Linked DNA regions of Homo sapiens. The protein of the gene in region 1 purifies or fractionates together with the protein of each later gene. This does not show direct contact. Each region holds a gene or a part of one and is shown in the gene's direction. Other genes may lie near its edges.

What was found.
Region 2: the proteins of CD9 (region 1) and IGSF8 purify together in Homo sapiens (affinity purification with mass spectrometry; 7 studies listed by BioGRID and IntAct, with this or other methods). This does not show direct contact.
Region 3: the proteins of CD9 (region 1) and ITGB1 purify together in Homo sapiens (co-immunoprecipitation; 5 studies listed by BioGRID and IntAct, with this or other methods). This does not show direct contact.

Annotation. Positions count from the first base shown.
Region 1 is NC_000012.12:6,198,753-6,202,499, forward strand, and holds the start of CD9 (CD9 antigen), read left to right. Parts: upstream 1-1,647; 5' UTR 1,648-1,747; coding exon 1,748-1,813; intron 1,814-2,089; exon of another isoform or gene 2,090-2,140; coding exon of another isoform or gene 2,141-2,221; intron 2,222-3,747. UniProt on the Homo sapiens protein: Integral membrane protein associated with integrins, which regulates different processes, such as sperm-egg fusion, platelet activation and aggregation, and cell adhesion.
Region 2 is NC_000001.11:160,091,890-160,095,636, reverse strand, and holds part of IGSF8 (immunoglobulin superfamily member 8 precursor), read left to right. Parts: exon of another isoform or gene 1-216; intron 217-390; coding exon 391-768; intron 769-1,465; coding exon 1,466-1,927; intron 1,928-2,305; coding exon 2,306-2,713; intron 2,714-2,941; coding exon 2,942-3,355; intron 3,356-3,698; coding exon 3,699-3,747. UniProt on the Homo sapiens protein: Member of the immunoglobulin superfamily (IgSF) that links tetraspanin-enriched microdomains to the actin cytoskeleton and plays several important roles in innate and adaptive immunity.
Region 3 is NC_000010.11:32,923,621-32,927,367, reverse strand, and holds part of ITGB1 (integrin beta-1 isoform 1A precursor), read left to right. Parts: intron 1-1,258; coding exon 1,259-1,497; intron 1,498-3,627; coding exon 3,628-3,747.

The DNA of each region.
Region 1 (3,747 bases):
CAAGGCTCTTTCTCACCTTCCCACAAACTACCCCGTGACTCCAGGCTCCAGCCCAGAGCCCGGACAGCCCCTGCCCCAGCCTTTGCCCAGGATTCTCCCTTGGCGGCAACTTTCCCTGTGGTTCTGCAGCATCATCTCCCAGTCTGGGTCAGAGGCCTCTCCTTAGCCTCTTAGCCCCCAAGCCTCTCCCCGTAACTGCACCTATCACCCTCAAACCATTGTCTGGCTGCCTGTCTCCTCCCACACTGGTCCCTGAGCAGAAACAAGGACTAATCCATGTTTTTCAGCTCCTACCCCTAATGAAATACCCTAATAGATACTGAAAAATGTTTTTGAACCAATGAGACAAGTCTACTGATAATAAACAGGCAAATAACAGCAATGTGCTAACAGTGGCTGTTTCTGGTGAGCAGAATTTTGAGGTCTGTTCCTTTCACTTCTTGGTATTTCGGTTGTTTCTGTAATGACTGTATCTTGCTTTTGTAATCATAAAGGACAGTAAAGGAAACTTCATTTTGAAAATAATACAAAGGGATTCGGGGACTTCAAAAGAAGGTGACTCTCCTCGTCCACTCCAGAGAATCAGGAAAGGAGTGTTTAAAGACCCACAGAATTCCTACAAGTGACGTTGGGGGGGGGCCAGCCAGCCAGGGCGCATGCCGGCCAGCGAGTGGGGTGGGCTCTGGGTCCGGGAGAAGTCAGATCAGTGCTCTGTACAGGGCCTTGAGGGCAAGACGAGGAATTTCGACTTAGGTCCTTGAATCTGGAGAGCTACAGAAAGTTTGTGAGCTCAGGAGAAGCGCTCCGAGCTCGGCATCTGGAGCAGTTCAAGGCAGCAGCGAGCAAGTCCAAAGACGCAGGAGGGAGGGTGGGGTGGAGGAGTAGAGAGAAAACAGAAGCCGTCTACAGACCCTTTTTCCCTCTGGGGCAACTAAACCTCAAGTGCAGGAAGCGCTTGGGGACTGCCCAGCCCTCAGCTGTGTTATTATTCGGTGATAGGTATTTGCTAATTACTTCCAAAAGCCTCCCATCTGTCATCCCACCCAGACTGCGCGCTTCTAATTCCTCCTACCCCACATGCTGTGCCCAATGAAAAGTATGGTCAGCGAGCGAAGGTTTGCAAGGAGACAGACGAGGGCGAAATTAAGCCAGGCGGCTTCCCTTTAAATCCTCGCAAAGCAGAAGGGCCCCTCACTCTGGCAGCAGGCCTTGGCCAAGGGGCCTTTAGCCCTGACGACCCGGGGAAGAGTCTCCCAAAGCAGAACGCCCGGTCCGGCGCCCAGACCAAACGCGGGGGAACCGGAAGGGCGAGGCCTCCACGTAAGTCCGCGGTAAAAGTGGCAGGGAGTGGCTGCCTGCAAAGACCCCAAGACGGCTTGAAGAAGGAGTGGGTGGCGGGTGGGGGTTAGGGCGACTAGGCGGGGAAACAGGGAGAGGGTCGGGCTCCGCGGGGCAGCTGGGGCCGGGGCTCGCCGACCTGGGCGGGGGCGGGGGGCGGGGGGGGTGCGGCCCGGGCGGGGCCGGTGGGGCGGGAGGCGTGGCCGGCGGGGGGAGTGGGGGCGGCTTTTCCCGGCACATGCGCACCGCAGCGGGTCGCGCGCCCTAAGGAGTGGCACTTTTTAAAAGTGCAGCCGGAGACCAGCCTACAGCCGCCTGCATCTGTATCCAGCGCCAGGTCCCGCCAGTCCCAGCTGCGCGCGCCCCCCAGTCCCGCACCCGTTCGGCCCAGGCTAAGTTAGCCCTCACCATGCCGGTCAAAGGAGGCACCAAGTGCATCAAATACCTGCTGTTCGGATTTAACTTCATCTTCTGGGTGAGTGAGCGCGACTGCCGCGCGCTCCTCTCAGGGCCCACCTGTTCGCGGGCCCCGGACACTGGCCGCGGCCGCGAGTGCCGGCAGCTGGCACTGCCCGCACCGGGCAGGCACCGGGCGGGAAGAGAGAGCGCCCTGCGGCTGCCAGCTGGCTCCAAGGCCGGGTCCAGAGCCGGGCGGGACGGCCGCGACGGGCGCATTCGGGTGGGGGCTCATCACCGCCCAGCCGGCGTGGGGAGCCGGGCCCTCTTGAGATGAGGCGTGCGGGAGGGTCCTGAGCACTTTAGCTCGCCTAGGATTTGAGCTGGGGTGTGTGTCTGCTCCCAGCTCAAGTCCCTCCGAGTGCCAGAGAGGAAGGCAGGGAGAAGCGGAGCACCCCTCTTTGGGCCAAGGCCAAGGAGGACTGTGGTGAGCAGTATGGCTTGTGACCGGGTGGGGTCTCCCAGGTAGTAGGGGGCGCCAGGAAGGGAGGGTGCGGGCACGGCGAGAGCTCAGCCAAGAGCGGCTCTCACTTTTACGCAGGAGCGGCAGGGGTGCCTCGGCCGCGGGTCCGGCCCCGGGACCCAGTCCCTGAGAGTCGGGGGCCCCTCCACCCTTGAGGAGGAACCTCGCAGGCCCCCGTTCCCTCAGACTTTGATTCTGAGCCACCGTGAGAGCGCCGAACTCCCTGGTAGCTCCCTGAAAGACTAGCTTGTCTTGATTTCTTTCAAGGACGATAAGTATCTTCACTGGAGAGAACTCAGAGTTCGGGAGAGGAGGGGGCAGATACCTATCTGCGCCTCTAGTGGGATGAGTCCTGTGTGTGCATTTCCGGGAGAGATCAGGTGCCAGCCAGCTGCCCGCCCAGGAGAGCCTTGGCCTTGCCCTCTCCCCTCCCCGCCAGCCCAGGCGGCCCACCCAAGGCCAGGCAGGGCGCAGAGCGGACGTTCATCTGGAGAGGCCAGCGGGGCCAGGAGCTCCAGAGACACCTGCTGCAGGCCACTCAGCCTCTACAAATGGGAAGGCTGAGAGGCGACAGAAGCAAGGAATAGGAAACCCTTGTGTCCTTGTTTCTATAGCCACATTCCCTGCACACACATGACAATACTTGCCGCTCTGCAGGCAGGAAGAGAGTCTCTATGCCACTCTCAAGATAGATGGATGTAGAAACAGGTGCATGCCACCAGAGTCTTGTAACAAAAAAGTGCACTTGGCCAGGCACAGTGGCTCATGCCTGTAATCCCAGCACTTTGGGAGGCTGAGGCAGGAGGATCGCTTTCATCCAGGTTCAAGACCAGCCTGGGTAACATAGTGAGACCCCCATCTCCACAAAAAAATAAAAAATTAGCTGGGCGTGTTGGCATGCACCTGTGATCGCAGCTACTCAGGAGGCTGAGATGAGAGGATGGCATGAGCCTGGGAGGTCAAGGCTGCGGTGAGTCATGATTGCACCACTGCACTTAGCCTGGGTGACCTAGTGAGCCCTGTCTCAAAAAAAGTAGAAAAGAAACAAATGCACTTATTCCCCCTGGAGCTGGTCACTGAGGTCCCCACAAGCCTCCTTAGGGAAATCTTCTAAGATTCACTCCTCCCCAGAGCTGAAGGGGTGGTTGAACAGTTTTTCCAATTTGCAGAGACTGACTTCCCCCAGTGCATCAGTCACCATAACACACACCCCAGTGAGGACGGCATATAGGTGTGCTCCTTCCCAACCCTTGACTTGCTTTAAAAAGACCCTGCTGGCCGTGGGCACCCCTCCTCCTGTGTTGCCACCCACCCCAGCAACCACCCAGCTGCCACGCTTAGCTTCTTTCTTTCACCAATCCCTGGCAGCAGAAAAGTATGCGGGAAGGCAGCTGGCCTCACCCACCCTTGAACTTTGGGAGTTTTCCTCTCCCCTCCCAGGTACAGTCTCTCCCGGCTGGTGTGTTGGTTAGTCCTCAGCTGTCTGCCTA
Region 2 (3,747 bases), on another chromosome or scaffold:
GGCTCCCCTTGCCAGGTGCTGAGGAAGGAATGGCAGACATGGAGGTGGGTGAGTGGCAGGGACAGATCAAGGTTCAGTTGGAACCAAGGCCTGGTTAGGTCAGGAATCAGATGTACTCCTTTCTGCCTTCAGGTGCTCTGCTTCTAGTCCGCCAGAAATGGGATGCATCTGGATGCCAAGGCAATCCTGGGCCCATGCCACCTCCTTGAGATCCAGGTGTCTTATATCACAGCATCCCTTTCCTATTCTCAGAACAGGGTCCAAGCTGTGGACAAGCTTTCCCAGGTCTCCTTTCCTTTTGTAGGCAGAGATCAAGAATGGTGCTTGTGGCGGCAGAGGGCATGGAATGAGGAACCAGGCATCTCCAACTCCTTCTGCCTTTCCCTACAGGAATGGGATGCTGGGCCCGGGAGGTGCTGGTCCCCGAGGGGCCCTTGTACCGCGTGGCTGGCACAGCTGTCTCCATCTCCTGCAATGTGACCGGCTATGAGGGCCCTGCCCAGCAGAACTTCGAGTGGTTCCTGTATAGGCCCGAGGCCCCAGATACTGCACTGGGCATTGTCAGTACCAAGGATACCCAGTTCTCCTATGCTGTCTTCAAGTCCCGAGTGGTGGCGGGTGAGGTGCAGGTGCAGCGCCTACAAGGTGATGCCGTGGTGCTCAAGATTGCCCGCCTGCAGGCCCAGGATGCCGGCATTTATGAGTGCCACACCCCCTCCACTGATACCCGCTACCTGGGCAGCTACAGCGGCAAGGTGGAGCTGAGAGGTACTGGGCCCTGGGACGGGGTGGAGCCACACACCCTCTCAAGGCAGAAAGTCAAGGCCACAAGTGACCTATCTAGTTGCCCCTTAGGTTTTGTAGCCAAGGAACTTGAGGCCCAAAGAGGTTAAGTGATTTGCACAAAGTCACCCAATAACTCAGTGGCTGATGTGGGACTCAAACCCAGAGTTCCTCACCCAGGCCAGTGCTCATCTTATCATATTAAGACCCCTCCTGGGAGAAGAAATGTCCTTAAGTTGTCCAGTCCACTTTCCATTCCCAAGAACGAAGAAGACTGTTGGGTTGAATAGCCTCTACTCCTGGACAGTACAGGACCCAGATCTGGGAAAGAGAGTAGAGTTAGGGAAGGAGTTAGACCATGTGACATTCTCACTCTCTTAAGTTTCTTTGTCTTCTGAGAAGAAAGAGCCGCTTTTCTCAGTATTTCAAACAGAGGTCAGTCTCAAACATAAGGGTGAGTAGGCGATGGGCTGGTTCTATGAAATTCTACAAGTATTTATTGAGCGCCTGTGCTGTGCCCAGTACTGCCCTTGGCACCACTGAGTTACAGAAGAAATAATACAACATGCGATCTTTGCCCTCTGGGAGCTCACAGTTTATTTAGGGAGATAGGCTATACACAGGAAACAGTAACAAGGGCTGCCAGCTCCCAGCCCTCCCTCACTCCAGCTGTTCTCTCCAGTTCTTCCAGATGTCCTCCAGGTGTCTGCTGCCCCCCCAGGGCCCCGAGGCCGCCAGGCCCCAACCTCACCCCCACGCATGACGGTGCATGAGGGGCAGGAGCTGGCACTGGGCTGCCTGGCGAGGACAAGCACACAGAAGCACACACACCTGGCAGTGTCCTTTGGGCGATCTGTGCCCGAGGCACCAGTTGGGCGGTCAACTCTGCAGGAAGTGGTGGGAATCCGGTCAGACTTGGCCGTGGAGGCTGGAGCTCCCTATGCTGAGCGATTGGCTGCAGGGGAGCTTCGTCTGGGCAAGGAAGGGACCGATCGGTACCGCATGGTAGTAGGGGGTGCCCAGGCAGGGGACGCAGGCACCTACCACTGCACTGCCGCTGAGTGGATTCAGGATCCTGATGGCAGCTGGGCCCAGATTGCAGAGAAAAGGGCCGTCCTGGCCCACGTGGATGTGCAGACGCTGTGTAAGTGCCACTTATACATCCCACTGTGGGAGCTGGGAGGGACAGTATCCTGGTGGGCACTGTGGCCACAGGGGGTACCAGATAGCCATCATCTGACTCCAAGGAACTCATCTTCCACAGAGTGAGCAGCCTTGCTAGCATTTCTCTCCCCCGGCCCTTGATGGGTTTTCTCTGCTCAGAAATTGGGTATAGAGATAGGAGGCCCATGCTGAGGGGTGAGATTCAAGCCCCTAAATAGAAAGATGGTCATACCTAGTGAGGGGGAGACAGGAGGTTTTGAAGTTGCTGCTGTCAAGTAGGAAACAGGAAGTTGGGGAATCGGGTGCCTCTGTGTCCCCTCCTGCCTCCATGACACCTCTTCCCCTACCTGTGTTTCAGCCAGCCAGCTGGCAGTGACAGTGGGGCCTGGTGAACGTCGGATCGGCCCAGGGGAGCCCTTGGAACTGCTGTGCAATGTGTCAGGGGCACTTCCCCCAGCAGGCCGTCATGCTGCATACTCTGTAGGTTGGGAGATGGCACCTGCGGGGGCACCTGGGCCCGGCCGCCTGGTAGCCCAGCTGGACACAGAGGGTGTGGGCAGCCTGGGCCCTGGCTATGAGGGCCGACACATTGCCATGGAGAAGGTGGCATCCAGAACATACCGGCTACGGCTAGAGGCTGCCAGGCCTGGTGATGCGGGCACCTACCGCTGCCTCGCCAAAGCCTATGTTCGAGGGTCTGGGACCCGGCTTCGTGAAGCAGCCAGTGCCCGTTCCCGGCCTCTCCCTGTACATGTGCGGGAGGAAGGTGAGAGGGGGCTGGGCCCTGGACGGGGTTCGAGGATTGTCAACCCCTTTTCCTTCTGTTTCCATGACCCCTCCCTCTCCGTCAGCTGTTTGCAGGCCACAGCCTCACGCTCCTCTTCTACCAAGATTGTGGGAATACCCTGAGTTTCCTGGGGCGGTGCTTGGCGGCAGCCCTAACCCCATGCTCCCTGGCCCTGCACCCTCTGACCCCATGTCCTTTGTTCTGCAGGTGTGGTGCTGGAGGCTGTGGCATGGCTAGCAGGAGGCACAGTGTACCGCGGGGAGACTGCCTCCCTGCTGTGCAACATCTCTGTGCGGGGTGGCCCCCCAGGACTGCGGCTGGCCGCCAGCTGGTGGGTGGAGCGACCAGAGGACGGAGAGCTCAGCTCTGTCCCTGCCCAGCTGGTGGGTGGCGTAGGCCAGGATGGTGTGGCAGAGCTGGGAGTCCGGCCTGGAGGAGGCCCTGTCAGCGTAGAGCTGGTGGGGCCCCGAAGCCATCGGCTGAGACTACACAGCTTGGGGCCCGAGGATGAAGGCGTGTACCACTGTGCCCCCAGCGCCTGGGTGCAGCATGCCGACTACAGCTGGTACCAGGCGGGCAGTGCCCGCTCAGGGCCTGTTACAGTCTACCCCTACATGCATGGTGAGTGACACCCCCTCCACCCTCCTCACTCTGCCTTCCTCCTGGCCTCTGCCACTGGCCTTCCCTTCCCATCTTCTGACCCTCCTGCTACTATCTCTCTCCTCCACATTATGTCACATGAAGTCTCAAAAAATCCAACTTCCAGCCCTGCAGTGCCCACCTGCACGGGGTCCTCTGTGGTTGATGCTGACTTGCATGCTGAGGGGGCAGGCTGTGGGCAGGGATGGGGGTGTCTGTGAATGGAGAAGGTGGGTTCAGAGAACTTGATGGGGAAAGCGCAGAGGCAAGTGTATGGGTGGAGGATGATGGCATCCTCTCTGAACAGTCATCCTCTCTCCCCCAGCCCTGGACACCCTATTTGTGCCTCTGCTGGTGGGTACAGGGGTGGCCCT
Region 3 (3,747 bases), on another chromosome or scaffold:
TTTTTCCCATTTCATGCATCCCCAGCTTAACCTCTTTTTTGCCTGCTTCTCTCCACTCCTGTTGCTCTAGAGGTTTAGCAACAGAATATTAGAAAGATTTGACAGTTATGAGGCCTAAGAGCTGCCTTTCAAAAATTAGCCCTATTTTAGTGGAAACATTTAAAAATAGCACTTGCTTAAAATGTTCTTTTATTCTGTAAGCATAATTCAAGGACCATGGCATTAGGGAGCTCCTATCAAATTAGTGTTTTTTAAAATGGCCAGAATTCTAGAATATTTGTTTATTCATTTGTTCAGCATGTCATTATTGAGAGCTGGTGTGCCAAGAAAATGAATGTGAGTTATTTTTAAAGTAGGGAGGCAAAATAAAAAGATTGTCTTAGGTCTTAGTCCATTTGTGCTGCTTTAAGAAAATACTATAAACTGGGTGGCTTATGAACAACAGAAATTTATTTCTCACAGCTCTGGAGGTGAGAAGTCCAAGATCCAGGCAGATTGAGCATCTGGTGAGGTCCCTCTTCTGGGTTCATAGATGATACCTTCTTGCGATGTACTCACATAGCAGCAGGGAGACAGCAGCTCTCTGGGGCTTCTTTGATGAGGTCACTGTAGGAGTCTATTCTTACGTTGCTATAAAGACATATCTGACACTGGGTAATTTATGAAGAAAAGAGGTTTAATTGGTTTACGGTCCTGCAAGCTCTACAGGAAGCATGGCGCTAGCATCAGCAAGGCCTCTGGGGAGGCCTCAGGAAGCTTCCAATCGTGGCAGAAGGCAAAGTGGGGAGCAGGCTTCTCACATGGTGGGAGCAGGAGCAAGAGTTGGGGAGAGATGCCACACAATTTTAAATAACAGATCTCATGAGAACTCACTCACTGTGGTCAGAATAGCACCAAGCCATGAGGGATTGATCTGCCCCCATGATCGAAATACCTTCCACCAGGCCGTACCTTCAACATTGGGGATCACATTTTAACATGAGACTTGGGCGGGGACAGATACCCAAACTGTATCAGTTACTAATCCCATTCATGAGGGCTCTGCCCTCATGATCTAATCACCTTCCAAAGGAACCACTTCCTAATACCATCATGTTGGGAATTAGGTTTTCAATGTAGGAATTTTGGGGTAACACAGACATTCAGTCCATAGTAACCTACATTTGGTAACATAGATGAATTTTTTAAACAATGCAAATCTCTGTCTTTCCATCTATCCATCCATTCATTCATTTATGTACCATTTTTTTCTTGGCAGGATTTGGCTCATTTGTGGAAAAGACTGTGATGCCTTACATTAGCACAACACCAGCTAAGCTCAGGAACCCTTGCACAAGTGAACAGAACTGCACCAGCCCATTTAGCTACAAAAATGTGCTCAGTCTTACTAATAAAGGAGAAGTATTTAATGAACTTGTTGGAAAACAGCGCATATCTGGAAATTTGGATTCTCCAGAAGGTGGTTTCGATGCCATCATGCAAGTTGCAGTTTGTGGAGTAAGCGCATTCATTTCCTATCAGGGGATATTGTTTCTATTATGTGTGTGAATTTTAAGTGTGATTTTACTATGATAATAGAAAAATTGACCTTAATTTTCATAGATTTGATTATCTTAGAGAAGTAATTTTAAGTAAACCCTTAAATTGCCTGTATACATAAAGTGCCTTTATAAAAGCATATTTAATCTTTATGCAAACCACACAGTTAGTTTATTCATGCGGGCTTTTAAAAGACAGAATGCTAACCATTTGAAACAGCGGGGCAACCTCTCTGTACTGTAGCTGGTGGTCTGGATTTTAGAAAAGCCCATGTGTCCTAACTTTCTGGCTTTGTACTAGAGATAGAATTGATGTTATTATCTGAGGCATCACCAGGAACCTTGAAATTGCTCAAAGGGAGAGTGTCTTGTATCATTTTCCTTTGGTCAGTTTTCTTCTCACTGTCTTTGAAAGACACATCTTTCTCCTGTGTCTTAGTAATTCAAAAAGAGAGAACTTTTTAAGCTCTAGTTTTTAACCTATATGAATAGATGTATTTTGAGAAGTGATACAATATTTGTAATTTTAATTGTAAGATTTTCAGTAGCAAGCCCATCCCTATTGGTTCAATAATTTGTATTTTATGATCCATGTAGCAGCTATGTATTTTGAGATGACACTTTAATGATGTGGCTGAGGCTGAAACTAGAAGACATTGTCATGTCAAGTTTGTCCTGCGTACCTACTCTTGTCTCATTTTTGTTCCCTCCAGTGCCCCCATTCTCTAGATGACCTTCTTTGATTTTAGAGGCCTCTTAGTGGTTATTTTTCAGTCAATTTTTGCTAAGGTGCTAATTGATGCCCAAAATAATAAGTGAAGGAATATGGATAGTAATTAAGAATTTTTCTATCACCACTGATGCTGGGCAATTTACTCAGCCTCTCCAGGGCTGTTTTCTTCTCTTTAAGAAGGGATCATGATAGTATCTACCTCATAGGGCTCTTGTGAAGTTAAAATGCATCAATCTCTATAAAGTACCAATGAGCATTCAGCAAATACTAATTCCTATATTGTTATTACTTTCGACTTTTCACTAGAGTGTTTGCAATTTAAGGTTAGTCCCTGCTGTTATAGCCGAAGCAAGTAGCATTCCAGGTAGTACCTAGCCTTACACCTCTTTTCTTACTAGCCATTGATGTGTGAGCCTGTTAGCAGCTCGTTGTGGGGAGGGCATTCTCTGGGCTGCCTCTAACTAGGCCTTAACCTGTGGTATTAAACAAGCCATAACACCCTTGATTGTGGCTGTTTTTCTGTGTTGGTCATGCTGATCCACTCCTCTAGATGCAAAAGAATCAGACATTCCACTTTTGAAAGATTGCCAGTATTAATAAATGTGATTCCCACCTTAAAGTATTTTACTGTCTTATGAAGATCTAAACAGACGTATTAAATAAATTAACGAAAGCAGGTAAATTCCTATAGTCCTATGATTTTATAATTATAAATTACCATAGTGACAAGAAGATTTTACAGTTACTTTAGATTCTTTATTGGAAAGGGCAAGGATAAAGTAAATGAGTGCATAAACAGTACTGATTGAGGAGTTAGAATGGGTGAAATTATCCTTAAACAAGATACTTATTTCTGTTATAAAAAAAGGAAGCCTCATATGGTGGGCTGATAAAGAAGGTGCATGGCATAGAACATAGAGCAGAGATGGGTGGATGGGGACAAGACAGCAGCAGTGGGGTAAAGTAAGGATAGGCTCAGACACTTTCATTTATTCAGCAAATGCTCATCAAGGGCTTACTGCTTGCCAAGCAGTGTGCTGGCTTGCTAGCTGCTGGAGATATGATGATAAGCAGAACTAAACCAAACCAAACAAAACAAAAAAACAGTTTTTAAAAAGAACTGAGAGATTGAGAGATACGGATGGTCAGGCAAGATATCGTTGTACATGGGATGGAAGAGCTTCATTCAGTGGGCTTTGTGTGTTTCTCAGCAAGATAATTACCATTGTATAAAGAGAAGACACAGAAAATACAGAATTAGGTTAAAAATACAATGGTGGCCTATATGAAAATTAAAGGATTTTTGTTGAATTACTGTGAATAGTGTTTTAAAATTGAAATCCTTTTCTTTTCAAGTCACTGATTGGCTGGAGGAATGTTACACGGCTGCTGGTGTTTTCCACAGATGCCGGGTTTCACTTTGCTGGAGATGGGAAACTTGGTGGCATTGTTTTACCAAATGATGGACAATGTCAC